Linked DNA regions of Homo sapiens. The protein of the gene in region 1 interacts with the protein of each later gene in a biochemical or structural test. Each region holds a gene or a part of one and is shown on either strand. Other genes may lie near its edges. The genes, in order: SORBS1, FRS2 and ATXN7.

Region 1 (12,010 bases):
TCCCAGGCCTCCTCTGAGAGACAGCCTATGTACACTTGAATGAACCACTTGGTTCAGACAGTTGGGTGAGCAGGTGGTAAGATCCCTATGGGGCATGGCCAGGTGACCAGAGATGGTTACTAAACTGCCCTTCAAGAAAGTGGGTCGAGGTAACTCAAGGTTTAGGCTTTGCTGAGAGGGGGCAGGCAAAGCAAGTTCGGGGACAGGACAGACTTGCTGAGGTAATGGAGAAGGGGTTGATACCCAATGCGCAGTCCAGCCACCTTCACTTCTGCCCTCCTCCACTCCCCCCAGCACTCTGCATCTCCACTTGAGAAACGCTGAAGAAGTGGAATTAGCCTTCCCAGGGCACCCCTGTGACTTGATTTGGTCCTGTGTAATGAGTTCCCTCAGTGAACTGTTCCAATCACCTCTGACAAGCTTCCAGCAGCTTCCAGAACATCAGTTATTCTGTTAACACCATTGTCGTTGATTTTTTAACCTTGTTAGGGTTATATTAGTGAGCCTAGTTGCTCTGTTTCTGAAGCTGCAGTTTTTTTCTCTCAGTCCATCAAGATGATCTCACTTTCTCTGGCTCTCTCCCAATTTCCCTGTGCCACCTTCTTCTTCCTCCTCTCTCTCTCCTTATTCCTCTTTCCTGGCACCTCTCCTCATCTCTTCAGTCTCAATCACAATGCCTCTCTTAGAGTTATCAGCTGTATCCTCCAACCTAAAAATGGTTTTCTCAAGTAAACACTTCATTAATGTAATTACTTTAGAGTAGGAAGCCTTCTAAGGTAAACTCAGCATGTTCTAACCAATAAATCCCCTGCCCCAGTCAGAAAAAAAAACTGATCTCTCAGCAGCTGCCTTCAGATTGGCACCTTGTGTTACCCTCTCCCAAACCCCAACCTTCCATTGACACAGTAGAAGTTGACAGAAGTGTATTCTGTACTTGTAATTTCTCTCAAAGGTCCATTGAGGTCAACTTCCTTCTTTCCCCTTCCCTCTTTCCTTCCTTCCTTCCTCCCCTCCCCTCTCCTCCCTTCTTGTCCCCTCCCCTCTGCTCCCCCCTCCCCTCTCCTCTCCCCTCCCCTCTTTTCTCCTCCCCTCCCATCCCCTCCCTCCCTTCCTTCCTTCTTTTCTTCTTCTTTTTTACAGGATTTTGCTTGCCTGCCTGCCTGCCTGCCATCCTTCTTCCCTCCCTCCCTCCCTCTCTCCCTCCCTCCCTCTTTTCTTCTTTTTTTAAAGGATTTTGCTCTGTTGCCCAGGCTGGAGTGCAGCGATGTGATCATGGCTCACTGGAGGCTGGAACTTCTGGGCTCAAGGTATCCTCCTGTCTGAGCCTCCCGAGTAGCTAGGACTACAGGTACACACTACCATGCCCAGCTAATATCTATGTATTTTTTTTTTTGAGACACAGTCTCACTCTGTTGCCCAGGCTGGAGTGCAGTGGCACGATCTCGGCTTACTGCAACCTCCATTTCCTGGGTTCAAGCAATTCTCTTTCCTCAGCCTCCCGAGTAGCTGGGATTACAGGCACCTGCCACAACACCTGCATAATTTTTGTATTTTTAGTAGAGGTGGGGTTTCGCTGTGTTGGCCAGGCTGGTCTCATCTCAAACTCCTAGCCTCAAGTGATTCACCCGCCTCACCCTCCCAAAGTGCTGAGATTATAAGTGTGAGCCACCATGCCTGGCCTTGCCCAGTTAATTTTTAAAAATTTATTTGTGGAGATAGAGTCTTGCTATGTTGCCCAGGCTGGTCTCAAACTCCTGGCCTCAAGTGATCCTCCTGCCTCAGCCTCCCAAAGCACTGAGATTATAGGAATGAGCCACTGTGCCTGGTCAGGCCAACATTTTAAATGTCTTTATTTTGACTATCTAATAGCATAAAATAATCTCCAAGCCAAACCTTGGATATTTGGTCAAATACAGTACAATATTTGGGGTGCTATTATGTGTACAAGTTTTCTCCCAAGCAACAACACAAGACACACTGGAGCAAGTGTTTTTATTTTTATTACCTTTTAGATACAGCATCTTGCTCTGTTATCCAGGCTGGAGTGCAGTGGTGCAATCATAGCTCACTATAACCTCAAACTCCTAGGATCAAGTGACCTCCCAACTCAGCCTCCCAAAGCACTGGGATTACAGGCGCGCACCAGTGTGCCAGCCAGAGCCAGTGTTTATAGATTGATAAACAGAGGCCCTGTGACCAGAGTCCTGGGGTTACTCATACTCATCCTATCCCTGCTTCCCAAGCACAGCAATCCCTCCTACTCCTCTGGGTTTCTACCTGGCCCCATAGACTTCTCTTGATCAACCTCCACCATTTCACCAAACTTCCCTAAAGCATTGTCCACCAGCATTGACCTCTAAGGAATGTGGAATTCTTGGCTCGGGCGTTCCATCATCTTCAAATCAGTTCCGTGCCCTGAGGCACGCGTTTGTAGATTTACTTTTTTCTCAGTAATTAATCAGTAAGAAACAAGACAATCAGTTATTAAGGAGTTTTGCTCTTTCCACTACTTGCTTCGCTTTCTGTAAGATGCTACAGAAGGCATTAGACAAAAATCATCAAGGGGTGTTTGGTGATACAGCAGCAAAACTCTTTGATTCATAACTCTCTTTCTCTCATTTGGTTTTCTTCTTTTCTCCTGGCATTCTCCAGCACGGCATCTCTGAAAATGACTATGGTCAATATTTCGGGTAACTGGGAAAACAACTTACCAAAACCAACGTGTTCTAAGAAGTTGTCTTTCTCAACACTGCCTCCTAGTAATGTTAAAATAATATTCACTTATTGATGCTTATGTGTGTCAGGCAGTGTGTAGGCACTATCCATGCACGATCTCATCTTCAGCTTGCAAGTAAACCTATGGAGGGTTGTGTTTTCTCCAGGTTACAGATGAGAGAAGTCTGCACACTAGGCACTGGAGCTAGGATTCTGCCAGGTGTCTCTGGAGCCCGCAGCCTTAACTGTTATGCTACTGCCAGCTCCAGGGCCTCTAGTTTATTTCCCTCTCTCCCAATCTGTGTGGCTCTGAAGATGAAGTAAAGGCTGACGACTCTGGGCTGTCCTCTGAAAAATCCTGCTCCCTCCTTTCCTAATTCCTCACACTTATGACCTGCTTGGGGATGCGTCCCACAGCATGTTTATGATCCTGGTTTGTGTGCATGACTCTCCGCCTGATATTTTAAATTCTCTCCAACAGCGGAAGGACTGCTGGGAATAATCTGATACACATGAAGAGAAAACGAGGAGTTACTAATAAGATTAAATTAAACTTAAGCACATTTTAAACAGCGTGTAAAACACAGGACTAAGCACTGTTTGAGATGAGCAGACACAAGGCACGACCTCATGGAATTTACAATCTGCTGGGGAGAGGAAATGAGGGATAAGACTACACACAAATATACAGGAGTTTATGCCAAATATGGCAAGTTCCATGAGAAAGGAAGAAATGAAGCACTGTAGGGCTGGAAGGCAGGAGTCCTCCCGTTTCCCTGTGGACCCAGGTTTAAGAGAAACGGTGGAGACTGAGACTGGAGAACAGGAAGTTTTACTGTTTTACTCAAGGGTCAGTCACTGATGCACTGACAAGGCCTCAAGGTTCACCCTCCCCAGGACAAGTTACATAATTTACAGGGCTCAGTTCAAAAATTAAAGGCAGGGCCCTTTGTTCAAAAATGAAGAATTTCAAGATGGTGACAGCAGAGCATGTAATCAAGTGTGGGGCCCTCCTCAGCACAGGTTGCATCCACACAGGGCTGGCCCTGCCCAAACGAACCTCCCTGGGCCTCTGATTCCCTAGGGCTCACCTTTGGGAAGTAGGGAGCAAGTATCTCTCTCACCACCTTGTAGCCAGCACCTAGCTCAGGGCCTGCTGCCCAGATGAATCTATGAATGACTGGAGATAGGATGAACTGACACGATTACACCTGATGATTTCTTGGGTTGCTTTCAGCGTTAAAACATTGAAGGACTGGCCAGGTGTGGTGGCTCACGCCTGTAATCCCAGCACTTGGGGAGGCTGAGGGGGGCAGATCGCTTGAGTCCAGGAGTTTGAGACCAGCCTGGCAAAATGGTGAAACTCTGTCTCTACCAAAAATACACAAAATTAGCTGGCCACAGTGGCCCATGTCTGTAGTCCCAGCTACTTGGGAGGGTGAGGCAGGAGGATCCCTTGAGCCCAGAAGATCAAGGCTGCAGTGAGCCGAGATTGCGCCATTGCATTCCAGCCTGGGTGACAGGAATGAGTGAAACCCTGTTTCAAAAACAGAAACAAAAACAAAAACCCAACCCATCGAAAGACCGTGACTTTCAACATTTCTTGGAGGAGACACCTGAGATGAGTCCTGAAGGACAGTAGGATTTTTCTTTTCTTTTCTTTTTTTGAGATGGAGTCTCGCTCTGTCGCCAGGCTGGAGTGCAGTGGTGTGGTCTTGGCTCACTGCAACCTCCACCTCCTGGGTTCAAGCGATTCTCCTGCCTCAGCCTCCCGAGTAGCTGAGATTACAGGTGCGTGCCACCACGCCTGGCTAATTTTTTGTATTTTTAGTAGAGATGGGGTTTCACCATGTTGGCCAGGCTGGTCTCGAACTCCTGACCTCGTGATCCGCCTGCCTCGGCCTCCCAAAGTGCTGGGATTACTGGCGTGAGCCACTGCGCCTGGCCACCAGTAGGATTTTTCTTTCTGTTTTTTCCACTTTCCTTCTTTCTTGACTTTCCACTATTTTACCATTTCTTTCATAAATCCTAATGGCAATGTTATGCCTTACAGTGAGACATGCAACAGTGACACAGACTGGAAACAGCAGAGAGGTTCAATATTTGAGGGATGACCTGAAGCCTTAGGCCTCCCTTAAGATTCCTTGAGATAGTGTAGATGAAATCTTCATTGATAGAGTCTGGTTTTTCATCTTAAAATTATTTTATTTTCACTGGACAAGTTGGTAGATGTTTATGAAGAAAAAAATCAGAAGACTATGGATGAGCAAAAATAATTACTTGCAATCCCATAAGAATAGTTCTAATGGGATTGCAGTATAAAACTAGTTTTCTACCTATTTTTCCATTCAATAATCTGAGCATCTTTTTTTTTTTTCTTTTTTTTGAGATGGAGTCTTATTCTGTTGCCCAGGCTGTAGTGCAGTGGCACGATCTTGGCTCACTGCAACCTCCGCCTCCCAGGCTCAGGCAATTCTCCTGCCTCAGCCTCCCACAGGTGCACGCCACCATGCCCAGCTAATTTTGGATTCTTTAGTAGAGATGGGGTTTCACCATGTTTCCCAGGCTGGTCTCAAACTCCTGAGCTCAGGTGATCCACCGCTGCCCACCTTGGCCTCCTAGAGTGCTGGGATTACAGGCGTGAGCCACCACTCCCAGCCTATTATGAGCATCTTTATGTGTCAATAAACCTCTTCATTTTTTGTAGCTATTAATATATGATATTCTGTCATATGGTTGTACTATTATTAACCAATGCACTCAAATTGGATATTTGGATTGTTTTGATTTTTTTTTTTTTTGGCTATTCTAAAATGGTGTTGCCCTGAATTTGCTGGGTAAGTAACTAGTCTCTCTACCCTTTGTTATACACCTCTGTGGATAACCTCAGGATAACGACACTATTCCCACCTGGGGTCGTGTGGTGGATGTGAGTTAACGCATGTAAAGCTCTTAGCACAAGTATAGTACGGTGCATAGCAGCCTAGACGTGCTCAATAAATACTAGCTGTTTTATTACTTTATAGCCCAGAGAGAGCTGTCTTACACAGATTGTGGAGTAAATAAATAGGAGAGCCGGGGAAGTGTTCTTTGAAAAGCTGCAGGATGAGGTGCAGATAGGGGAAGGCCGTGGGCTGGGGGCTCCCTAGGTTGAGTAGTTCCCCAGTGTTTTCTCATTTATAGAGTAAGCTTCCAGATGGCTAGGACTCTTCTTTTTTTTTTTAATACACAGCAGAGGACACCAGGTGGTCACCAAAGACTTGTCACCGTTCCCTGACATCTAAGAATCTTTGCTGATGAGTTTCCGATCAGTCTGTGCAGTTATCAAGGCCAGTCTTTACCCTGCCACCCACAGCCTGTTCACTGAGAATGTGCTCTGGCTGAAGATGCTTGCAAGGGCAGCTGACAAAAATCAGTTGTGCTCAGCCCAAAGGGCGAGTGTCTTATCTTCAGGGATGTGGGAAGCTGGGCATGGAGGGAGCAAGTTCCAGACCAGTACTTGCTGGCTCTGCGACCTTGGGCCAGCAGATTCCCCACTCTGATCCCTGTCTCTGTTTCCTTTTCTGTAACTCTGAGGGGGACTAGAGGAGGTCAGGAGAATGGCATAGCACAGTGGTTAGCTCTGAACCCCATCTAACACGGTGCCTTCCCCCCACTTGCAATGACCTTGTTGCATTGTATGCACTCTACTTTTCACATTGTAGAGGATCTTATTTATTTACTTGTCTCCACTAAAATGGAAGCTTCCTAAGGGAAAAGGCCTTGCCTGTCTTGTTCTCTGCAGTTAACACTGGGGTCCAGCACTGCCACAGAGCCTCTAAATATATGTGTGTTGCATGAGTGAAATCTCAGAGCCTGGGTTCAAATCCTGGTTGCACCACTTGCTGTGTGACCTCGGACAAGCCACTTAAACTACACCTCAGTTTTCCTGCATAAAAATAGTAATTATTTTCAGTTTTCTCACTAGAAAAATATGGATTAGTAATCGTTCCTCTCTTATCAGGCTAAGAGGATCAAATGAGGAAATATCCGGGAAGCATTAAGCACACTGGCTGGTACAGAGCACACGAATGACAACAGCAAACGTTTATGTAGCACGACGGCCAGGAACTGATCAAAATGCATCACCTATGTTAACTATGTTAATCTTCACTAGATTTTACGAAGTCGGACTATTATGCCATTTTACAGATGGGTAAACTGAGGCCCAGGAGTTAAATAACTTATCACTGTTATTTTACGTCTAAGGTTCCTTCCAAGCTCCCCGTGGGCGACCCTTCCGAAGGACCAGAAGGCGCGCCAGGCCAGCGTCCGGCCCGGCCAGGACGGAAAGGGTTACTAGGCCCGCGCGCCCGTTACCGGCGGAGGCCGGCGGGCTCACAATGCCAGGAGCCGGGCGCCGGACACTTCTTCGCCTCCCATCCGCGCACACGCCCCTTCCTGTCACGGCTGGGCCCGGCCCCGCCCCCGGCACCGCCCGCTGGCCGGGCGCTGCCAGAGTGGACGGTTCCAGAGGCATGCTAATGAGGGGGCGGGCACCGCAGCCCATTGGTTGTCCGCGGAGTGTCGGTGAAGTCAGCGCTGAGTCCCAGAAAAACAGAGCGGGGCCAGCTGCAGCGTGTAGTGCGAGTGGGGCGGACGCGCGCAGCCCGCCCGCCCGGCGACCAGCAAGGTAAGCCCGCGCTCGCCCGCCCGGCCGCGCTTGCCCGCTCGGCGGCGGCAGCGCCGGGGGTGTGCGCGGCTCGGCCCCCGCGGGCGGCGCCTTTGTTCCGCGCTCGGAGGAGGCGCATTTAAAGGGCCAGCTGTTGGAGGGACTTGGGGGACCCCCTCCCCCAGAGCATCCCCCCATGGGCACAGGGAAAGCGGTGGTCCCTCGCGGCCGAACCGTCCATCCTGCCTGCTCGGCGAATCCCCAGTCTTTCAAGGAAAGTTCCCCAGGGTGCGGAGGATCTGGGGGCTTCCAGGGTTGGGGGTTTTTAAATTTCCTTTTTTGGTGGGTGTGGGGTAGTACGATCATGGCCTCTGCTAGGAGAGAATGTCCGCCCGTCTCAGGGTGGCTGCAATTTGGGTGGGTGGAGGAGACATCAAAGCCCGAATGGGTTTGTGCTGTAAAGTGAAACTACCGAGGAGGGGCACCTCTGCAGCAGCCAGAGGAAGGCGGAGGGAGCGAGCGGCGGGATGGAGGCATCTCAGGTGTGTTCATTCATCAGCATCCCCTGGAGAGGGCGGCGGGAGGGGCGCAAGGACGACGCGGTTGGCCGGACCCGCCTGAATGAACGGGGACTAGTATGCGCCGGGGACACGGCGCCTGCCCGTGCCGCCCGTGCCCCTTCTTCTCCCCGAGTGGCTGACAGCATCTTGCTAGGCAGCTCATCACCGACATGGACAGCAAGCAACTCCTTTCTCCGAATTCCCCGGGCATCCCCTGCTACCACCTCGCTGCTTTCCGATGTGGCTTCCTTGATACGTGGTAGCGCCATTCAAGATAGAGGGGAAAGAGGCTTGAAGTCATTATGTTTCCTTCATGGGGGAATGTGCTGTCGAATTCTGCATCCCCATGCATCCGCTGTCGTAAGATGGCTTTGAAATTCACCAGTGCATGCTTTCTCCAGGCAGACAAGAATTTATTACGCTATTACATTGCTACGTAAAAGCAGAAGGGATCCCACTGAGCATGGCTCGTTTTGTTCAGTCCTCGGTTTTTCCCAGCATGTTCTGGGCGAGCCTTTGGATTTTTGTTTTAAACACTGAGCGTTGGGATGCCCCTGTTGTCACAGGGCCGACCTGCTGAAATTGCTGGAATTGGTTTCATCGTCAATAGGAGGGAGGTTCATCTAGAGACATCATGGAACCTATCTGGCGTGTCAGGCCTCTGACTCCATCTCTCCCCTCAACACCCCCCCCCCCGCCCAGCCCCCCGCGCCCTTTTTTCCTCTTAAGTGGAGGCGGGGGATGGATTGGCTGTCTTCACTCTCCTTGTGTTTTGAGCTCCTCTGCTTAGATTCAATTCTGTGGTTTTGGTTGGAAAGGTATCTTGGTGGTGATCGAAGAGAGGAGGGTTGGATTAAAAGTGGGGTGGACACAGAGGGGTCAGCAGCATCAATGACAGAAGACAGATGATGGACATATCTACAGCCTTCAGACACCGATGAGGCAGATGGCTGTCTACAGAGTGAGGGGCGTGTGTTTGGGCTGTGAGGGGGAGGGGTGGAGGAGGAGGATGCCTCCAGCAGTTTTCTGCCCCGCCCTCTGGATGCTGCCTTAAATAGCCCCTTGCCAACCAAGCTCTGATGTCTCTTTCTTGGCCTGAGGGGAAAGAAGGGAAGGGTTGGTCTGTTGGCACCTTTGCCCAAGGCACTGTTGGAGCAGATGGTTAGGAAAGGGTTAGTTCTCCAGGGGTTGCAGAGAGCACATTTCTCAGCTGGAGGGCCCTGAGACCACTCCTTTGGCGACTTCCCTGCAGGGAATTAGCAACTGAAATGAACTGCTGTCTACCCTGTGGGGTAAAGAGTTGGGAGGGTATTGTCATCTTGTGGACGATACCCGCCTTGTTGGCCTTTTCCTTCTCCTACCTGCTTTCATTTGTTGTAGTTGGAGAGTTTCTGTATACTTTTCGGAAGAGATTGGGCATATTGGGGAGTGGGTAGGAGTTATGGGAAAGGATGAGCAAATTCTTCCTGGCAGAACAAAGCACTGTTCAGCTGTTCCTCTCTTTCCCCTTCTCTAAAATAAGAGTTCAATACAGATAGCAGAGTCTAGGGTTTTCTTTGTAAACAATGAAAGGGCAGGGCCAGGAAAGAAAGTTTTTATTGTGCAGCATTGATAATGATCAGGTCATCCTAACTTATCTCCAGACCCTTCCCTGGATGTGGAGATAGATTTGCTGTAGAGGGCACTCTATGGTAATTTAGGATTTGACCTGTCTCTAGGAGAAAGGCATGGATGGTCTCAAAAAGCTTTGGTGGAGAAGCTCTGGACCAGAGGCAGGACAGCTAGCTTTGGTCCTGGCCACCAATCTTTGGGCTTTGGGCTAGTGGCTTCTGCTCTCTGGGCCTGTGTCCTTGCTGGTGAAGTGGAGGATGATAGGGCAGAAGGTCTTCCAGGGTTCCTGACAACTCCACTGTTCTTAGAGTCACAGTTTGTGATGGCATTTTCAGGTTCTTTCCTGTTTGCTAAATTGATAATAAATTCAAAGTATTGCACAATGGCATAGAAGAAGCATTCTAGGATGCAGGCTTCTGTTGGATTCACATCTACCTTTTCCTTGATTAGTGTGATTTGTGAGGTTTTACTGTAAGTATGTAAACAATTCAGAGCTAGAACGGTCCAGAGTGAGAGGCACAGACCCCAGAGTGAGTGGTTGTGGGAGATGAGGGTGGGATGATAGATTGCTGAGGAAAGGGAGTTTCTGTAATTTGTTCTCTTTCCCTGTGGATGTTTAACTTGCTGGTTTATTCATGGTTACACAGGTGAACGTTTACCTATCTAGAAGATGAGAGTTATAAAAGACCTCTGTGATTGCCATGTTCCTCCCCCTTCCCCGCCAAACTGAGGAATTTGAGGGGTTGGGAGGTTTGGCCATTTTTCCAAGGTTGCACAGCTAGCAAGATGTGGAGCTGGGGTGGGAACTCGGGGGGATAGATTGTAGATCTTGTTTCCAGATGTATCTGGGTTTTTTTGTTTTTTGGTGGTGGTGGTTGTTTTGAGACAGGGTCTCACCTGTCACCCAGGCTGGAGTGCAGTGGCACAATCATGGCTCACTGCAGCCTCGACCTCCTGGGCCCAGGCAGTCCTCCTACCTCAGCCTCCCGAGTAGCTGGGACCACAGGCACGCACTACCACACCCAGCTAATTTTTGTACTTTTTGTAGAGACAGAGTTTTGCGGTGTTGCCCAGGCTGGTCTCAAACTCCTGGACTCAAGCGATCCGCCTGCATTGGCCTTCCAGCATGCTGGGGTTATAGGCTTGAGCCACGGTGCCCGGCCTATATGTATCTGTTAAGCCCCCTCTTCCTCTGAGAGAAATGATTCTAAGATGGAATAGCGAAACATGAGGAGGAAATAGGAGCACAAGAAGAGAGAGATTGGAGAAACAGACGAGAAAGTAGGAGGCTGGGGACAGATTATGTGGGGAAGGGAAAAACACAGAAACCAAGCTTGGAGGAGAAAAGGATGGAGCTTGAAAGGGGGAGGCTCTATTGTCTCTGAAACAGCTGAGCTCTTCTGCAGCCCTTGGGGTGAAGTGAGGGGAGGTTTGGTAGCCTAGGATGGGGGGTGGGGGGGTGGACTGAGAGTTCAACCTCAGCCTGAGACTGTCTTGGAATCTCCTTGGGATTGCTCCTGTTGACCCTCAGATTGCAAAGTGTCATGGAGGCTGCTTAGTTTCAGGACCAACTGAGGCCTTTAGATCCACGGGAGCATGCAGAATGTGGACATGTGGGAAGTCAGGTGTGCGGGTGGTGATGCTGGCTGATGCTGAGGTGGGACTCAGTTCTGCTGAAGTCCCGGTTTTTTTGTAAATGCAAAACTCAGAACACTTTTCCATGGATTTCGTTTCAGTGCAAGCAGCATTTTCTCCTTGGATTTTCATCGGTGCTTTGAATGTTTTATGAGATAGTGTTTCGAATACTCCCTTTTCAGAGGAGATACTTGGAGATGAATGATTTACTGAATTGTAGCTCATTTGGGGGAGCTTCTGGCTTGTGACCTAAGCTAAGCCTCAGAATGTTTCAATGAGCAATTAAAGAGCTGTGAACAGTGGTTGACCAGAGCACTAACCATTCAAAGGCAAGGATAAAAGGTGATAATAGTTCAAGGTCTGGAGCTACAGCCAACAGCTGGCCATGAACAATGTAACTGACTTTGGCTAACTCTTCAAGCCCTAGAAAGTGTCTCTGTGGGTCCTTTGGTGGCTCCCCCTTTTTGTGTGCGGTTAGGCATGTGGACCCGTCCCTGAATCTTGCTGTCTCCCATTCTTCTTTTGCTACATCTCCCTCCACTATCCATTTCTTTTTCTTACCTCTTTCTCCTTGCCCTCCTCCCTCATTCTTTCTTTATTATCAACAATATATCTTTGTAGTTTCTTTTAATCTATTGCCATTAAAATTTCATGTTCTCTGTTCTTCATTTCAAATCAGTCGAGGGCCAGGCAAGGTAGCTCATGCCTGTTATCCGAGCACTTTGGGAGGCTGAAGCAGGTGGATCACCTGACGTCAGGAGTTCAAGACCAGCCTGGTCAACATGGTGAAACCCCGTCTCTACTAAAAATACAAAAATTTAGCCGGGTGTGGTGGCAG
Region 2 (11,235 bases), on another chromosome or scaffold:
TCTTTTCCTACTCCCAGGGGAATAGTAACTTCTCCCTAAATGTTACCTACTGCTCTTAGTCTTTGGATGTTTTCTGAAGCTCAGCAGTACAAAGCCTTTCCTCATATGAACTCTGTGCCAATCTATTTTGGTGTCTTTGAAAGGTACTTTTTTTGTTCTGCTTTAACATTGTGTCTTTATGATGTCCCTTTATCTCCTGACCCACTAGATTTCCCCTCTGATTTTATTTTCTGCGTAAATTTATTTATACTAGCGGTCCAGCTAAAGGCCCTCCTCCTCTTAAATGAAGGTGTCTCAACAACCTTAGACCACACTTCCTGCCTTCTGCAGCCTCTGTTGCATTCCTTTGTCAATTAATCATACACTTTTGTGGTATTGACTTTGTGTTTCTACATTTTGTTTCCCCAGTGGGAATGTAAATTTCTTACAGATCTGAACTGGGTGTTACACGGCTACGTAGTCCATGCCTGATACACACATTGGTTGATGAATGAACTAACAAATTACAAATAACTAATTAGCAACAATGCATTTTCCTGACGAATTGGTGACATATTTGCATGACTGTCACCTTCTTTTTTTAGGTCATTAATGTGGATGATGATGGGAATGAGTTAGGTTCTGGCATAATGGAACTTACAGACACAGAACTGATTTTATACACCCGCAAACGTGACTCAGTAAAATGGCACTACCTCTGCCTGCGACGCTATGGCTATGACTCGAATCTCTTTTCTTTTGAAAGTGGTCGAAGGTGTCAAACTGGACAAGGTAGAACCTTTGTTTTTTTTCCCAAATATTGTATTTGAAATTGTTTTTTCAGCTATTCTGTATACAAAGATTAAATTAATATTTTTCTTCTGAAAAAAATCCCAAAATAAACAGATTGTTAAGGAAAGATATAGTATACTGTGTATTAATTTATCAACTGTTTATTAAGCACATTGTCTATGTGAGAAATTTTGGCTCATGTCAACTTTAAGATTTTTCAGTAAATGATTGGGTCAGCTAAATTGACTAAGTGTCTTTATCATTGATTTTTTTACTACCTACTACTTGAATGGCCTTGACAAGTTACAGGACTTCCATTGAATGTTAAATTTCTTCTCTATAAAAGGGAAATGGTAATACCTATCTTTTAATTATTGTAATAATTAAACAAGATAACAATTGGAAAACACCTAGGGACTTTCCAAGGGGCCTGTTACATGGCAAATGATCACCTTGGAATAGTGAGTTGGGCTCCCCCTGCTGTTAAGAAACAGACTAGCGTAAGTGCGCAGGTCTTGATTTCATTAGCTTTATTTTGGGCCATCTCCCTTAGATGAATGAAAATTATTCTGTGAACTTTTGGCGGGGGTTTGTTTTGAAACAGAGAATAATCATTAATTTATCAGATATTTATTTAAAAGGGATTTCTGACTCGGTGCGTAGAATGCTTACTTTACAATTCTGCTGTTTGTCAAGTGTTCCTATAGTTTTTTTTAAAGGTATGTTAACTATTTTTCCCTTTTGGTTTATATTTGTAGGAATCTTTGCCTTTAAGTGTGCCCGTGCAGAAGAATTATTTAACATGTTGCAAGAGATTATGCAAAATAATAGTATAAATGTGGTGGAAGAGCCAGTTGTAGAAAGAAATAATCATCAGACAGAATTGGAAGTCCCTAGAACACCTCGAACACCTACAAGTAAGTACCCCTTTTCCCTTTCACATTTTGAATAACAGACGTTTAGTTGTAAGCTATAGATTGTGGGTATTTAATCAATAACACACTAGAAATCACCACTGGATAACAGAAGTATAATGGTTGTCAGTTTTTAAAAACAGCTGTAGGCCGGGCGCAGTGGCTCACGCCTGTAATCCCAGCACTTTGGGAGGCTGAGGCGGGCAGATCACTAGGTCAGGAGATCGAGACCATCTTGGCTAACACTGTGAACCTCCATCTCTACTAAAAAAATACAAAAAAATTAGCCGGGCGTGGTGGTGGGCACCTGTAATCCCAGCTACTCGGGAGGCTGAGGCAGGAGAATAGCATGAACCCGGGAGGTGGAGCTTGCAGTGAACTGAGATCATGCCACTGCATTCCAGCCTGGGCGACATAGCAAGACTCCGTCTCAAAAACAAAACAAAACAAAACAGAACAAAAAAACACAGCCGTAGTTCTAAGTACTTCAAATATTTAAAAAATGAAAACATTCAGTATTTCATATTAGGTAAAATATGGAGTTGGGGGTAATACTATTTGTGCTCTGATTTCTGCTGTCTTGGCAGAAAGACCTCCTATAATCCTCAGTACAGATTCGATTCTTACTCATTTTTATTCTCTCTGCCCCGCCCCCCTTTTCCTTAAACCAATAAACAAAAACTCAGCTCCAGGATTTGCTGCTCAGAACTTACCTAATGGATATCCCCGATATCCCTCATTTGGAGATGCTTCATCCCATCCGTCAAGCAGACATCCTTCTGTGGGAAGTGCTCGCCTGCCTTCAGTAGGGGAAGAATCTACACATCCTTTGCTTGTGGCTGAGGAACAAGTAAGCATGTGCTACTGTGTAACAGCAATAATGATTGTTCAGAGTTAGGGTATCACTGTGCTAATACTGGAAGATTTTATTCAGCTTGAAGTTTAACTTTATCTGTTTGTAAATTACTTTTGTAGTGAACAATCAGAGGAGATAGCATATATTTGCTGGTTTATGCTCAAATATATGCGGGTATTCAGGGGAACTTACCATTACAGTAGCTTGTGGGTTCACAGAAGAGGTACATCTATAGATTAAGAAAGGCATAACTAATGGTCAGTTCCCATTATAAGAATGTCCAATGGATTAAGAGTTTATGCTGCTTTTCATATTTTAGCCATTATAGTCAGTGAACTACGAGTAGGAAGGTAGATTTTGCTGTTAATGTTATGGAGTTATTTAGTGTTCCCGAGTATGCTAGTTTTCATGTGTGGAATGAAGTATCTGGTTGGAACCTCTGTATTAATTAGTTATACTTATGTTTTGTAAACCATATGTCACATTAAAAAGTTTTTAGTGTTTTTAAAATCAGTTTCTTTGTGTTCTTTACATAATGAGTTGTTATATTATTTACTGTAATTACATGAGTCTTGGTCTGTCGCCCAGGCTGGAGTGCAGTGGCATGATCTCAGCTCACTGCAACCTCCACCTCCCGGGTTCAAGCAGCTCTCCTGCCTCAGCCTCCCAGGTAGCTGGGATTACAGGCGCAGGCCACCACATCCAGCTAATTGTTTCATATTTTTAGTAGAGACCGGGTTTCACCATGTTGGCCAGGCTGGTTTTGAACTCCTGACCTCAAGTGATCTGCCTGCCCCGGCCTCCCAAAGTGTTGGGATTACAGGCGTGAGCCACTGTGCCCGACCCTTGTAAATATTTTTATATTATCTCCCCAAAATACTATTAAGCTTTTCTAAATAGTGATAATTTCTTACTTGGTGGCATTTATTTTATATATATGCATTTTACAGAACTCTTATTAAATCTAGTGGAGTTAATCTTCTTATACATTCAGATCATCAGTAAATAAGGATAAACTTATCTCTTTTCAAAGTCGTTATTTATTTCTGGATCATGTTTTAATGCTTTGAGAACCTCTAAAACAGCAGCAAAATGATAATCCCTATTTTGTTCCTGATTTTTATTTTTTACATAATATTTATCATGTTTAACAATCAAATATAATGTTGCATGTTATTTTATTTTATTTTTTGAGATGGAGCCTCACTCTGTTGCCCAGGCTGATAATGTAATGGTGTAATCTCGGCTCACTGCAACCTCTGCCTCCCGGGTTCAAATGATTCATGTGCCTCAGCCTCCAGAGTAGCTAGGATTACAGGCGCTCACCACCATGCCCAGCTAATTTTTGTATTTTTAGTAGGGACGGGGTTTCACCATGTTGGCCAGGATGGTCTCGAACTCCTACCCTCAAGTGATCCACCCGCTTCAGTGTCCCAGAGTGCTGGGATTACAGGCATGGGCCACTGCGCCCAGCCTGCGTGTTATTTTGAAGTCGTTATTCTTTTATCAAATTAGGAAGACATTTCTACATTTCTCCTTCTCTTTCCACCTTTTTATTAATAAAAAAACAGGTGCAAAAGTTTTGAAGTAAGAGTACATTTGGAGAGAAAGTTAATACAGTTAACTGTTGTCAATAAAATTAACTGATGTGGTCAGGCTTTTTTTCAGTTTTGTTTTTTTAAGTAAGTTAACTAATTCACTTTCTGTTTTGTTTTAGGTACATACCTATGTCAACACTACAGGTGTGCAAGAAGAGCGGAAAAACCGCACAAGTGTGCATGTTCCATTGGAGGCGAGGGTTTCTAACGCTGAAAGCAGCACACCAAAAGAAGAACCAAGTAGTATTGAGGACAGGGATCCTCAGATTCTTCTTGAACCTGAAGGAGTCAAATTTGTTTTAGGGCCAACCCCTGTTCAAAAGCAGTTAATGGAAAAAGAGAAACTGGAGCAACTTGGAAGAGATCAAGTTAGTGGAAGTGGAGCAAATAACACAGAATGGGACACTGGCTATGACAGTGATGAACGAAGAGATGCACCCTCTGTTAACAAACTGGTGTATGAAAATATAAATGGGCTATCTATCCCTAGTGCCTCAGGGGTCAGGAGAGGTCGTCTGACATCCACCAGTACCTCAGATACCCAGAATATCAACAACTCAGCTCAGAGAAGAACTGCATTATTAAACTATGAAAATCTACCATCTTTGCCTCCTGTTTGGGAAGCCCGCAAGCTAAGTAGGGATGAAGATGACAATTTAGGACCAAAGACCCCATCTCTAAATGGCTACCATAATAATCTAGATCCAATGCATAACTATGTAAATACAGAGAATGTAACAGTGCCAGCAAGTGCTCACAAAATAGAATATTCAAGGCGTCGGGACTGTACACCAACAGTCTTTAACTTTGATATCAGACGCCCAAGTTTAGAACACAGGCAGCTTAATTACATACAGGTTGACTTGGAAGGTGGCAGTGACTCTGACAACCCTCAGACTCCAAAAACGCCTACAACTCCCCTTCCACAAACCCCTACCAGGCGCACAGAGCTGTATGCCGTGATAGACATCGAGAGAACTGCTGCTATGTCAAATTTGCAGAAAGCACTGCCACGAGATGATGGTACATCTAGGAAAACTAGACACAATAGTACTGATCTGCCCATGTGAGCCTGGAAAGCATTGTGTTGTTTGCACCTTTGTGAAGTTTTTAAAAATGAAGATGCAAGTGCTTCATTTTCATTTCTAAACACTAACTCCTTTTATAGACTGATAAAATTTTTTTCTGAATATTTCATGTGCATCTTTAACTAAAGGGAATTAATGTAGAGCAGGTACTCCTTAAAGAACACTAATTTCATTATATACTACTCGTTGTACAGCAGCATTCCCGTTTTCACAGTGCCTATTTAAAATGAGAGTTGAAGTAAATGACATGCTGGTTGATTTTTATCAATATTCTGGACTTAACGCATACCTTTCATGTCTAAGTCATGGTTGGCTTTTAAAACTTTTTATAAAGCCTCTTGACAATGTACATTGCTAACAGGTAACTATAGGCTTTGAAAGTAATGCTCGTAGATTCAGTGTTCACAGTATGTGGCCTCCAGCATGTAACATGAGGAATCCTTTATTTCATTAATTAATGGCTTTTTGACTTGAGCCAAAACATATGTAAAGGAAACAGAAGTACCGCACCTCCTCTTACACCAGTCAGCTCCTTTGCCTTCAGTGTTACTAGAAAGCGGCCTGTGTCCATGAGTGTGCTTTGCTGTTGGTGCACTGAAAGGCAGGAAGGAGACAAGATTTTCTATTTACTCATCTCATGATGTCATTTGAAGGGCATGTCCAGATATCTTAAAATTATAATAGGCTCAAGAATCAGTCTCAGGTCACTTTACCCAAAAACATTTGAAAATCTGAACCACAATCTCCTGAAAGTTTTTCTCCTATAGATTGTTGACAACACATTGTTTTCTGGAGGCATTTGTGCCATTAGGTTTCCATTTATCTTCAGTTTTTTTCTTTGGTGTTTGGGATGTCTTATTTTGTTGCCTTATGTCCTTTTCAATTTAAAATGTTTGAGTTTGTATATAGTTTTGAAATTGGATTATGTGTTCATTGTTGTTTAGTTTGCATTTTTGTCAAATTATGGTTTTGAAGGTTCATTTGGAACTTACTGTTAGTCTGTAACAGGGTTGCCCTTGTCCAGTATTTATTTATAAGCTGTTTACTTTTCAAGTTGATAAAAACATTCTCCAATTCTAAATTTGCTTGTGTCCATAGGTGATCTCTTTAGCAAACTGAGAAAAAAAGGAAGCTACTTTTAACATGCAAAGTTCCCTCAAGGTGTACCGTGTTGTCTCTGTGGGCACTCTTCCCCAGCACTTTAGCAGTAATTCCCCCAGCTACACGCTGCAGTTGTACTCTGCCCACTCTAGTGTTCCTCAGCTCTGCTGTCCTTTTACTTGTAGCTGGATCTTTGATTATCCTTCGATTTCCATGAAATATTAATATTGTTGCCAGCATAGCAGGTACAGTGGAAGTCTTGTAGCAGTGAGATTGTATCATAATTTAGGATTTAAAATGAATTAAAGTTTATATAAACTGAAGAGTCTCCATATGTCAAACTCTTGGAAAATCAAAGATGTTCCAATTTCCTAAACACTAGAGAATACGAGAGAAGGTAGAGTGGAAAAGGTTAGGTAACCTTGCAAAATATTTTACTATTTTCTCTAAATATGAGGAAGTTTGAGATTATGATCTGGATCTACCAGATATAACTAAGGTTAATTTAGCATGAAAAAGTTTTAGTCATATTGGCATCCAACCTATTCAGTAACCGAATCATAGGACAATGATGGATTAGGAGAACAATAGAGTGGGATCATTATAAAGAAAATAAATTATTAAAGGTGTCTTTATCGTTTTAGTGCCATTTTTAGTGTCTTTACTATAAATCAATATCAGTGTATTTTATCATTCTATGTGCATAGCAGAATTTTCTTTTCTCCCTTTTGTTCCCCTGTGAACTTGGTGCTTATTAAAGTGCTCACTGTTCTCTTAAAAGAGAGCAGTGGTATAGGTGTGCAGTTTCCATGATGCAGGTTCCATTTTTAATATATTGTTCCACTTATCCTTTCTTCTGAGTAAATTGCTAATTGTGCCAAATTTATGTAATAGTTTTTGTAATGTGGAATAAGAATTATGATGGAACCATTGCACATTTTTTTCTGAAACAGCCAGTCAAGGCAGAACATTAATCTCCAAATGCAAGGGCTGATCTATTTATTCATTTTGGAGGTTGGGTACTTTATTCTTTCTTTCCGTCATCCTTTTCATTGTTTCCCCCGGATTCTAATTAGTTTTTATTTTTTTTAGATAACTCCAATATAATCATTACAGTTTATGCTTTAAATACTATGTGCTTTAAAAAGGAAAATGGGACCAATTTGTCTGCTAAGAATTTGATTTTAGGTACTATAAGAGTATTAGGAAAATATATACAACTGGTGTTAATTTCTAGATATTTTCTAGAAATCACTTGTGTTCCTATTTAATAAAAGGTAATTTAGAATACTACTTGTCCTTTGCAGTAGTTTAGTAATGGGCATTAAGCTGTGTCCTCGAAGGATGTACCTATTACTAGGTGCATTTTAGAATGAAATATTGATATTTTATTAGCATATAATTGTGGCCATATATCTCAGATTTTCTGAGGCAGATCTAATTTTAGATAATTCTGTTGGTAGACCATGTGATCCTTCTTTTTGGTTTTGGAAATATAATCATTGTTAATGTTTTCCCTCCAAATAGAATACTGTTTTATCCATACAAATCATAACAGCATCTATCCCATGCTAGGGTTGGAAACTGATATTGGTATTACTTGTGTTTTTTCTTAGTGTGTTTTATTTCCCAGTTTCATCTTCTTCTAAAAATGAAAATATGGTGCCTTCCCTCCCTCCAGGAAGACTGGCAAATATTTCCTTTTATTTACTGCTGCTGTGGAGTGATGAGATATGCACTTTACTCTTTAAGATTCAGCAAAAAGCTTTTCACTTCTCAGTATATCCAGAATACATCATATCTGGGACTTAGGAAAATTTGCCAAGCAATCTTTGTTTTTATAGATACTAATGTTGACCCTCTCCAGCGTTCAATGTTATAAATAGAACAAGTCAAGCTAGTGTTTATCTCCTCCCCCTCCCCAAAACTGTGGCACAGCATATAAAAATGTACCTCAATAATGTTCTATTAAAAATGGGACAGGGGCCTTATGTTTTCATAATTTCCCAACAATGTGCCGCCATATTTTTGCCTCAAGGTAAAGGTTTTAACAGATGAAAAAGTACTTCCCAATTCCCCCGTGCTATTCCTAACCTATAATGCCCAAATGTTTTGTGCAATGTGTAGTGTGTGTGTATAAATACATATATTCTTGAAATAGACATACCATCAGAGACATCATTCACAAGTAACTGATGTATTGGCATCTCATTCATATTTCTGATGTGTGAGGTATATGGTACTAATTACCTTTTCCTTGATGTTTGCCAAATTTGAATAAAGGCATTGGTACGAAATTACAGAATGTAAAGAAAATGTTTTTGGCTTGAAAAATTAACATATTTTATGACGTACCACAGTATACTCTGCCCAAACCAGCACCCTATCTATCTTTCCTGTTCTTTACATCCCTGTTCCCCATCCCTACTTCCTCATTTTTGGTATAACACAGTTCTTTTGTAGCATCATTATAATTGCAGTTCTATGGCAATTGGACAGTTATAGCATGGAAACAGACTGGTATAAGTAGTACAGTAGTCACCAGTGTGCCACATTTGCATTAGTAATGCAAAATATACATTTTATAAAGGACAAACTTTGTGTTATGTTTTATTTTCATTACATTGTATAATATTGTAAGACTATTGTATGTCCTAATTTGCATTATAAATGTTTTTTTCCTACGTAAAGGCATAAATATAGCAACTTTGTATAAAGGTAGCTTATTAGATTTTTAATTTTTTCTTTTATAAAAAATTGTCCAACAGTGGGACTACCATTGCCAAATTGTATATGAAATATGAATTTTACCCCCATGGTTAATTTCTTTTATAAACATTCCATATTTCTCTAATAAAAAGACATAAGTGATACTGTACTATGCATACATTGTATCTTAATGCTGTTTCAGATCAGCATTTTAAATTTTGGTTTGCATTTTTAATATTGGCAAAACGTAACCACTGTTAATTAAAATAAAACCTTGTTGTATATGTAACAACATAATTTTCCCTCTATCCCTTCCCACCCTTTGTTCTCTATTTCTCCCTATCAGTGCCAACTTCATACATTTTGTAGCATGGCAATAAAATATAACTTTTACACTGAGGCCGAGTGTGGCTTTTTGGAGGAAGTGGGGATGGGACGATTGCCCTCTAGTTGTCCTTTGCATATGACTGTTTTTTGCCATATAAGCCATGTCATCAGGCATGAAAAGTTTTCTCATATATGATGTAAACTTGCTTTTAAGGACAAGTGTGAATGTGCTTTTTAAGCTTAATTTTTGTCATGACAACTAATTTTTTTTATCTTTGGAGAAGTCAGAGTTCTTTACAATCAAACGTTTATTAACTGGAGTACTTAGAATAAGCTAGTAATTGAATTTAGTTCAAGGGCTAAGCAACACATTTTTAAATCCTTATTTATTGTAGAGTATTAGTATACTGTCCTACAAATTATGTAAAATATGGTTTAATATTAGATGACTTTGGATTTTGCAATGCCTTACTGTTGTCATTCTAGCATAAATATCCATAATGAGGTACTCAAGTTGATACTGGAAGCTGAGCTGATCATACACTGACCTGAAGCATTCATGAAAAGCTGCTTTATTGAATAAAGTCTGATTGGAGTTCTTTTCATGCTCACTTTCCCCTTATTGCTGAAAGTAGATTGCAATAAAACCCCAATAAAACGTTTGGTCGGATATCTACTTAAAAGTTTTATTGTATTTATATTTCACATACTACTTGAAACTTTGTGACATTTTCTTTCCTAGTCTCATATCACTGCCTCCATTTTCAAAATGAAGATATCAAAATGAAATTGTAACTATATGACAGGCTTTCTCACAGTTTTAGCTGTGTGATCATTCCAAATAGTAGTTCTCAGCTCTGGGACTTCAAACCTGTTTTTAGCCACTGAGTGACATTGCAAAGCCTTAGTTGAGTACAGGTCAAGATGGAAATTATTTAAACAATGAAGGAGATGGACATGTCCACAAGTGATTGATGTAACTGGCATGATAAAGACACACACAAAGGAAGGGCATCCAACTCAGCCTAGGGGTGGAGGTTTTCAAGCAAAGCTTCTTAGAGGGGGTGATCCCTGAGGTGGTTTGTTGAAAGTCTTTGTAGCTTAGAGAGGATGTCTTAGGGAGAAGGGATAGCATGTGCAAAGGCACAGAGGTATAGAAAGATCATGACATTCAGTGGTTGCAAGAGGTTCCAAATGACTAAGCGCATGGAGAGCAAAGGCAGGGTTGGGGGATACAGAAGAAAGGAGAAATGAGAAACAGATCACAGAATCCTAAGGAGCTTTTGTTTAAATTAGGTGAGAGAACTTGAAGGATTTTAAACACCAGAAAAATAATAGTTTAGAAAGATTTCTCTGACAACATGGATACGTGAAGGGCGCAGTATTTTTTTTTTTTTTTTTTTTTTTTTTTTTGAGACGGAGTCTCTCCCTGTTGCCCAGGCTGGATGGAGTGCAGTGGCGCCATCTCGGCTCACTGCAAGCTCCCCCTCCCAGGTTCATGCCATTCTCCTGGCTCTGCCTCCCAAGTAGCTGGCCCTACGGTATTTTAATAAAGCAGGGAGACTGGTTGAGAGGCTTTTTCAGAAATGGAGCCAGATCTGATAAATCCGTATTCAAAGGCATTGTTAAAGGACTGTTTAGATTGTTTACTGCTGTGCAACAAACCACCCTAAAAGTTAGTGGCTTAAAGCAGCAATCATTTAATGTCTCAAGTTGCTATAGATCGAGATGGGCAGGGCACAGCAGAGATGGCTCATCTCACATGATGTCTGGAGGCCTGGCTTCCTCATATGCTTTGTGCCTATGCTAGTATGATTCAAGCAGCTGAGGGCTGGCTGGACCAGTTCCACTAGGTTATGTCTGGAACTTAA
Region 3 (8,331 bases), on another chromosome or scaffold:
TCCTTTTACTACCATTTTTTTTTAACACTGTCATCTGTAGGTCACTCTCCAGCAGTTAGGCACCTTAACTGGAGACCAGAAACCTTCCAGAGAACACAGGGCTGCATCCCGAGCAACCCTCTGAAGAAGGGAATTAGGCTTTAGATTTTGATAGCAATGTTCCAGGAATGAAATATAGATGTTAGCCCAAGACACCATGACAAAATAGCCCAGCCTTTTGAGAGTAATTTGGGAAAAGAAGCTGTCAGAAGTTTCTAACTTACAAACTGGTTTGAAATTTTTGATGCCCAGACAGCAAGTATAAATCATTTTGGAGGCTTACTTTTCATGATACAAAAGCAATTCTGTGTGATTTTTTTTTTTAAGAAGAAAGAAAATGCAAGCTAGTTTTGAGAAAGGAAGGCCAAATTGGGTCGGGGGAGGGTGGGAGTGAGGAAGTTAAAATCACTATAGGGAGAAAAAACTTTTTTCAAGATTTCCAAAGAGATGAAATTTTCTTAATCCTTTTAAGTTTTCATAGTAAACAGTATGGCAGATTGGGTTGGTTGTCCTACCTGGTCTATTTTTAAAAGTCACCTTTTAAAGTGACATTATTAGATACACTTAAATGTTTCCAAGGCACTCTCTACATTACCCTTGTTTTTCTCTTTGGATACTGTCCTGGGACTAAGTGTAGATTTCTGCTTCAAGCACTTCTGGCATTGTGTGTTTTTGTATGCACTCCCCTTCATGCCACTTCAGATGTTTATTTGGATGTGGTTGGGGACGAGAGCAGACACCAAGGAAAGGGAGTTGGAGAGAATGTAAGTCCTGACCTGAAGGTCTTTTGTGATGCATGTATAGGATTGCCCTGACACACACCCTCCTTTCTTGGGATTATACCAGCCATCTTCCTGAGAGTTTTGGAGCCCTCTAGGATATTTTTTCTAGTACCCCACCCCCCACCCCTAAAGAAAGACCTTAATATGTTAAAACAGCATTGCTTGGAGAAGGTGTCATTGAATTCCGGGACGAGCCGGAGCCTTTAAATGGGTGCTTCCACCACTACAGGCTCCTGACACGAGTAACAGGCACTGTTGCTTAGAAGAACACACGAAGTTGCCGAACACAGGGTAAAATTTCCAAGGCGCTGATCGTTGCCCTGGCCAGGGCCTGATGAGAGCCAGTCAGTACATTCTTTTTTTCCTACAGTTCTTGGGTTTCAAACTTCAGTTTCAGGGAATTTCAAGTCAACAACAGGTAGAATGAATAAACTTGGTTACCAGCCTAATAATGTGAATTGCTACAGAATTATTCTTATTATGTAAGAAAACAAAAACTTTATGCAGATACTTTAGCTATAAATTGATGTAAAATACTGATTTTTTTAAAGGAAGGAGAGAACAGTATCTTGTTCAATTATTATGCAATCAATCAGTAAATGTTTTTAAAATGATACTACAGGAGAGCTTAGTAAGGAGAGGGCATGGATGGGCCAGTTTGGCATAGTTGGGAGAAATCAGTCTGGTTTCCATCCCAGTCGGGGAAGAGAGAGGTGAGAGGGAATCAGAACGTACCTAGTTGATTCCTTGGTGACAAGTGCAATGGGGTATGGGTAGAATTTATTTTCAGAGCCAAGAGGACTTGATGGTTATAAATAAAGTTGCCTTTAGCAATGGAATTTACAGATCGATCATGTTGTTCCGAAAGATGTGAATAGGATCCACAATAACAAGTTGATTCAGACTAATGTAGATATTTAGATTAGCAAGTATTGAACATTTGATTTCTTAGACTGAGGTTTTAAATGAATTTCATTATTTCTCCCGGTAATACACAGAGCATCGGGATTAGGAAATTAGCCATTTTGGATTCTGTCTGCCACAAACAGACCTATTCTAAACAGTGCTATTAAATTTTAGACTGTTGTTCAAATATTTTATTTTCTCCTAAACTACTTTTTATGGTGATGAATAATTAAGACCATTTAAAACACGGGAGTACAAGTATTTTTTTGAATTAAATTAACTTGCAAAAACCAAATTTGCAGTGGTTGGGTTGTTTCTAGACAGACTTTGGTATCAATTTAAAACCAAGATAATTTTTATATTCTTTCCAATAGAATTTCATGACAACTCCTGCAGTTTTCTTAACCTACAAAAAAAAAAAAAAAGTGCTGCAATGATGAACAAAGAATTATACAAAACCTACTTTTGTATCTTTATTTTGGAATTTCTTGTTCTATTATAAATATGGAAGTATCCCTATTTCAGAAGACATATTTTGTTAAAAATGAATTGTACATATTTAAATATGTATTTTTGCACAGGTCTTTTTTTCTGATATCCTGTTTTGGTACAATTGAGATCATCTAGTATTTATTTATTAATTAATAAAAGTAAATACCTTTTTATAATTTGAAGTGGTTCACTGCCAAGCCAATAGTTCTAGAACCTGCCTCCTTTACAGTTTTAAGGGATGCCTCTGTTCTGTGAAAAGTCTTTGTCCCTTTTAGTGTCTCGGGAGTGGATTCATACAGATGAAGTGGGCATTGCTTCTTCCTGGTTGCCTGGTTTCCCGATAGACTACATGTAACTAAGTGACACACTGCTTTTCTTTTGTTAGTATTTTATGTGTGGGAGTATGTGACTGCGTGTGTGTGTGCCTGTGCGTGTGTGTGTATACTCAGCACATGTATGTTACTATGTGATGTGGTTTAAAACTAATGGAAAAAACTGAAAGTGCCTGAAACTAGTTTTAAGCTTAGACAGAATCTCTTTAAAAAGACTTGAATGTTCAGTTGAACTTTTGGAGTTTGCTTTTTCCACCTAAATATTGTTTCTAAAATTTTAGGGGCGGAGTTGAAAACCACCAATGCTGGTAATTTTATAAGGTATTTTAAAATTAAGACCTCTTGGTTCATAGTAATTCAATTGGTGATGGATTGCCTGGTGGCACCAAGGGTTACAGATCTTTTTGTCAGCCAGCAACTTACACGATGTGTCCGTTTTGTTATTCACTCATGAAATACAATTTAAAATATTTAAAATATTTTGTATTCCAAAAATATAATACAAAGAAGTACCTCTGAGAACATTGAAAAAAATGTATAATTTGAAAAATGTAACTTATAAGGGCAGCTGTCTTCCTGCAAGAGTTCTGTTGCCAAGGAATTTCTTAATGTCGCTCATTCTGTCCAGGGGGTTTGGGGCGATTGGGCTTTGAAAAAATATTCTTAAAAGTTTGTTTAGCAGAAAATAATCACTTTTACATTTTGTGCAAAACATTTTACATTTTCAGATAATTTAAATGAGCACTACATACTGTCAGTGTGAATGTAGGGCCTTGAAAGCATTTTGCTTTTTTTTTTTTTTTTTTTTTTTTGAGCTTGGTTATAAAAGCAATCTCCTGTGTTAAAAACGTGTGAATAGTTTGATAATTTGTACACATAATCAAGAGCATCTCAGCTGGACTTTGTGTTGGCTGCTGTATAGAACATGAACAAATGTCAAGGGATAGAAAATTACTTTGGATATTTAAAAGAGAAGAAATATATAGTCTATTTGTTTTGTAACAAGTTTCTGTAAATAAAATAATTTATACTATTTATAAGAAAAGGTTGTGCTTTGCTTTATAAGAAATTAGCTTGTGGAACAAACATGTTACTAAACGGGCAATAAAATTAGGACTTCTCAATAAATAAGGTTGGCTGCATGAAATATTGTACGTTTCTGCCTCGTTGTGATACTAAACCCTTTCAGTCTACTCTGACTTTTCATCACTTTTGGCATGGAACACCCTTGTGAAGCCCCTTCAATTTAGCCTTCCTCTTATATAAGCTAAATACTTCTAAGGCCTGGGGATGTTTCCATCTGGGGGCACAAAGCTTTGCTTTGGATAAATTAGTAACTGTGTAAACAGTGAACATTACTGTATTCTGGCCTTGCATGTTTGTGAAAGAAACGAGGGAGTTGATGGATTGAGAAACACATTCTATTTGTACTTAGGTGCAAATTTGATGACATGTAGTTTTGGTTTAAGATAAGCTTTTTATCCAGACCCGGTCTAATCTCTTCCTTTCTTTTACATACCTCCCTTACTGGCAATACAAGTGCATTTTAGTATTATTTGGAACACAGCATAATCATTTACCTCTAGAAATCCAGACATTTTTACTGTTTGCAAATAAACCATTCTGATAAATTATTTTTGTTGCTTAAAATAAGAGGAGGAACCGCTGTGTGTTAGCAAGAATGTCCATACCTGATATGAAAGAGTCATGTTGGCTTCAGTTCCTACTGCCCTGTGGACTTCCCATTCCCTCCTTACTTGAGTCAACCATCCACTCAGTACTTTCCACAAATCTAATAATGAGGTGCTCTCTGTAGGTAAATCCTTTCACTATGGCTTGTCCTCAAACCTCCCAAGAAAAGGTTCAACTGCTCAATCTCTTAACCTTTTTAATTCCATTCCCTTGCAGGTATCCCGGCCCTGCATAACAAGATGATCCCAACTCAAGGAAAGGGGTTTAGCAGTGTTGGATCTTGGCGTATGTGGGATTTAACCAGGCAGAAAGGCAGACAAGAGTAAGATTCTAGGCAGAGAGAGCAAATGCGTCGAGCATGGGTATGAACATGTGAGGGATAGAGAATAATTCTGCAGGAAGTTTGCTGGATGGAAGGGCCTTATAGGGTTAGAAAAGCTGGTGTCAGATTGTCAAGGACTTTGAATGTCATGGGGCTTCTCTTCCAGGAACACATGGGATCAGGCTTAGATTAACCCAAATGTAATTGTCAGAGCCCAGAGATATTTCATGGTCCAGTCCTAGCACTGTGCAGCTGCCAAAAGTCAAAGCCATTCAAATCTGTACTGAAAACTGTGGAAAAGCAAAGGAGCACTTAAGTCTCTTTCCCCATGTCTTGCATTCTCACTCTCTTTTGCTTCAAAGATCTGTCTTTACCTGCCCCTGTCCCCAGTCCTAACAAAAAGCACTCCCCTAAATCAACTCTTAAGTTCCTCTCCCTTCTCACTCCTTTCTTAGTCTCCTCTTTCTGTAAGAAGTTCTTGCTCCTGTTGTTAATGGAAGTTAATTAAAGTAGTATTTCACCTTGTAAGGCTGTAATTCTTGGCACTTGTTATCCTCATTTTCTACATCCAAAGACCATGGACCAGAATATCTCTTAGGAGGTAAGGGAGAGTGAGGCTATCAGCCAAAGAAAAAGTCTCCAGGGGGAAGGGGAGAATCACTTATAATTTAATACTTTGTGGAAAAAACATCTCTGCCACCTATGGCCCTCCAATAACAATGGAAGACAGAATCAACAGGTGAGAACCTTGGGACAAAAATAAGTTACAAAGCTGTTGTAATCCAGGTAAGAGCTATTAAGTTTCCAAACGAAGGCTGACTGTGAGGATAAGTGATACTGATTTCAGAAATCTTTAAAAAGTAGAACCAACAAGCCTTGAGGTCTAACTCTGTTCAACATTAAAGGGAAGAGTGAGTCTAAGAAGACTTCAGGTTTCTAGCTTGGCCAAACCAATTGAGCTTTAAGTGAAATGTGCGATATGGTAACAGAGAAGGAAAAAGACATAACGATAGATTTGAGCTGCTGGTGGGAAATTCTGGTTTAGTGCCCAGCTGGCTGTACAGGCTGGTTGGACTTTAGGAGGGAGGTTTGAGCTGGAAAATAAAGATGGAGAGTTGTCTTTCAGTTTTAGATCATCAGTGAGGTCATAAGGGTAGATGGAGTTTACCTGGGAAAATTAAGTAGCTATTCGATTTGGCTTATTATTATGTTAAAATAATACTTCTCTAGTGAAGTACTTAATATGCCAGATACTGTGCCAAGCATTTTATATACATCCTCTCTTTTACTAAGCCCTCATAGGGCAGGTATTTTGATTCCAATCATACTGATTGGAACTCCTAAGAAGGTATCTTGCTTAAGGTCCCACAACGAATAGGTGGCAGATCCAGGGTAATTCAGGTCTGTCAGAACAGTGATTCTTAATTTTTTCCCTCCTCAGACTCCAGGAGTCACATGAAGTTATGCATCCTGTCTGACCGAGGCACAGGCACACCACATTTTTATATTCCGCTTCCAGGATATCACAAACCTGAAGCCCATCCTCCATGGCCCAGAGAGAAAACCCAGGACAAAACCTTGGAGAAGACTATTTTCATGAAGACAAATGGAGAAGGAGCAGTAGAGTAAAAAGAGAGGTAAGGGAAGGCATTGAGATGGTTTACAGGGTTAGATGTTTTGAGTCAATCCCATTATAATTACCAATGCTATCTACCTATTTAGTTAACGTTTTATTGCCCTGCTGTTTTCTCCAGGATAATTGGAACAGCATGTATTGGTTGGGTGGAAAAGATAGAACTTGAGCAGGGAGATTGCCAAAGAGTGAAGATGTGGCTGAGTGATTGATGATGGTCTGAACTGGGTATTCAGGGAAGAGAACTAGAAGCCAACCATGTAGAATCTATGCAGGTGCTCTTAAGACATTGGTTTGACTGGAATTATCTTCTTGTTAGGTCTTAGGAATCTCCTTCCAGGTAACTTTTTCTATGATTAGACAATTGATTTGTTCAGGGTCACAGAGCAAAGTCCACATTTAATTCCACATGGCCAATAAAAGTGAGGGGCTACAAGGTGAGATCCAGGGGCCAGAGTTATCAAAGTGATACAGCACTTTTAGGAATAGGACAGGGAATGGAGGAATTGGAATTCCAGTATTACTTTCAAAAGCAGAACTGGCCAGAGGAATTGGAATTCCAGTATTATTTTCAAAAGCAGAACTGGCCAGAGGTGCTTGTGATTCCTGGGTGGAAACCATGGCAGTGGACAGAAGCAGCATGGAGGAAAAGAGCACTGGAATTCAGGCTGAGGAACTGTGAAGCCAAGGGTGTTGTATAGGTTGTCCATTTCAAATTAGGGTTGCTTGGTTCTGGGATGATTTGCATGGAAGAGGGGAGAGTGACTTGGAGATGTGTGATTGAGGACAGTGAGCACAGTGAGTTGATGGTGTTGCTGGGTTATAAGCAGCTTCAAAGAGAAGGCATTTTGAATGAAGGTGGAAACATAATGGCCAGGAGAACAAGCAAAGGACTAGGAAACAGTGAACTTCATCTTGGCCTCAAGTTCCTGAGGTGCATATGAATAAACAGTCTCTAACCCAGAGGGTTTCAAGAAAAGCAGAGTCCTCAAAATCCAAAGGTAGAGTTTCCCCACATTGATATTATACTAATTACACGTATAACAGTACTTTGGAAAAGCACAGGTCTCTGGTCACCTCTAAAAGGCAAGGTTGGTAAGGAGGTCAGGGTGTCACCTGTTGGTAGTCTTAACTAAATGGTCTCTTCAAGGGATCTAAGGATGGAAAGGGGATATATAATGGTTGGATTAAAGGCTCATCATTGATTAGCAAATTGTCCCTTTTGTTTCTTAAACCCAATTTGTACAGGGAAAGTTATGCCACTGTAAGATATTTTTAAATGGGGAAAAAAAAAAAAAAAAAAAAAAGGTTATACCCTTTGACCATGTATGTCAAGGTTAAAATGGCCTGGATCAGATTGCTACAAATTCCTGATAGCCTTTGTATTCCTTCAGAAACACAAGCATAATGCAAATCTGTGGCTCTACAGCTTTGAAACCAAAACTAGTGATTATCAGAGCTTTTCATGTTATCCAGATGGGGATTTTACCCCACTCCCCCATTGCCATTGTGGAGGCACAGGTTTGTTACCAGCAACTACAAGTTTATGTAGCATTGGGAAGGTCAGGGATTATCATAGTTCCCTCCACGCTTTTTCCCCCATAATCATGGGGGCAGATATTTCAGCTGTCAGCTGTTCATCTTAAAAACATTAGGTTAACAGCAGCACCAAGGACTAATTCAGAATATGAAATTACAGAAATGATTTGCTAATGATTTAGTAGCCTTTTATCAGTTAATGTTTGGTCAGGTTATAAAAGACCAAATGTGTTCAGTCACAAAATCCTAAGTGTATTGAGTATTGCATGCTTAGTGATCAAGTTGTAGGCATCCTTCTAGCCATCTGGGGCAGGTAAAAGTTGGGTGCTTAACAAAAGTGGTTTTTACACTGTTTCTGTCCTAAGAGACACTGTTTTTTAATAGCTTAAAAATTGACCTAAAGCTGTTATTTCTAATACAGGAAATAGATTACCATAATTTGACATAGCTTTAAAATATTTAGCTCTTACTCGATAGATTTGCTATAAAATCAACTTTTACTGAGGTAAGAGAAACTGGCATTTCTGCTTTAAAAATAATCACAAAAGATAGTTTATCCTGGCGATATCATTTCACACTAGGATAGTTACTTTT

What was found.
Region 2: the proteins of SORBS1 (region 1) and FRS2 form a complex in vitro, tested with the Homo sapiens proteins (one study listed by BioGRID).
Region 3: the proteins of SORBS1 (region 1) and ATXN7 form a complex in vitro, tested with the Homo sapiens proteins (one study listed by IntAct).

What each region holds. Positions count from the first base shown.
Region 1 is NC_000010.11:95,556,697-95,568,706, reverse strand, and holds the start of SORBS1 (sorbin and SH3 domain-containing protein 1), read left to right. Parts: upstream 1-7,335; 5' UTR 7,336-7,387; intron 7,388-12,010. UniProt on the Homo sapiens protein: Plays a role in tyrosine phosphorylation of CBL by linking CBL to the insulin receptor. Required for insulin-stimulated glucose transport. Involved in formation of actin stress fibers and focal adhesions.
Region 2 is NC_000012.12:69,569,747-69,580,981, forward strand, and holds the end of FRS2 (fibroblast growth factor receptor substrate 2), read left to right. Parts: intron 1-584; coding exon 585-771; intron 772-1,529; coding exon 1,530-1,688; intron 1,689-2,371; coding exon 2,372-2,535; intron 2,536-4,258; coding exon 4,259-5,209; 3' UTR 5,210-10,047; downstream 10,048-11,235. UniProt on the Homo sapiens protein: Adapter protein that links activated FGR and NGF receptors to downstream signaling pathways.
Region 3 is NC_000003.12:63,999,867-64,008,197, forward strand, and holds the end of ATXN7 (ataxin-7), read left to right. Parts: 3' UTR 1-3,596; downstream 3,597-8,331. UniProt on the Homo sapiens protein: Acts as a component of the SAGA (aka STAGA) transcription coactivator-HAT complex. Mediates the interaction of SAGA complex with the CRX and is involved in CRX-dependent gene activation.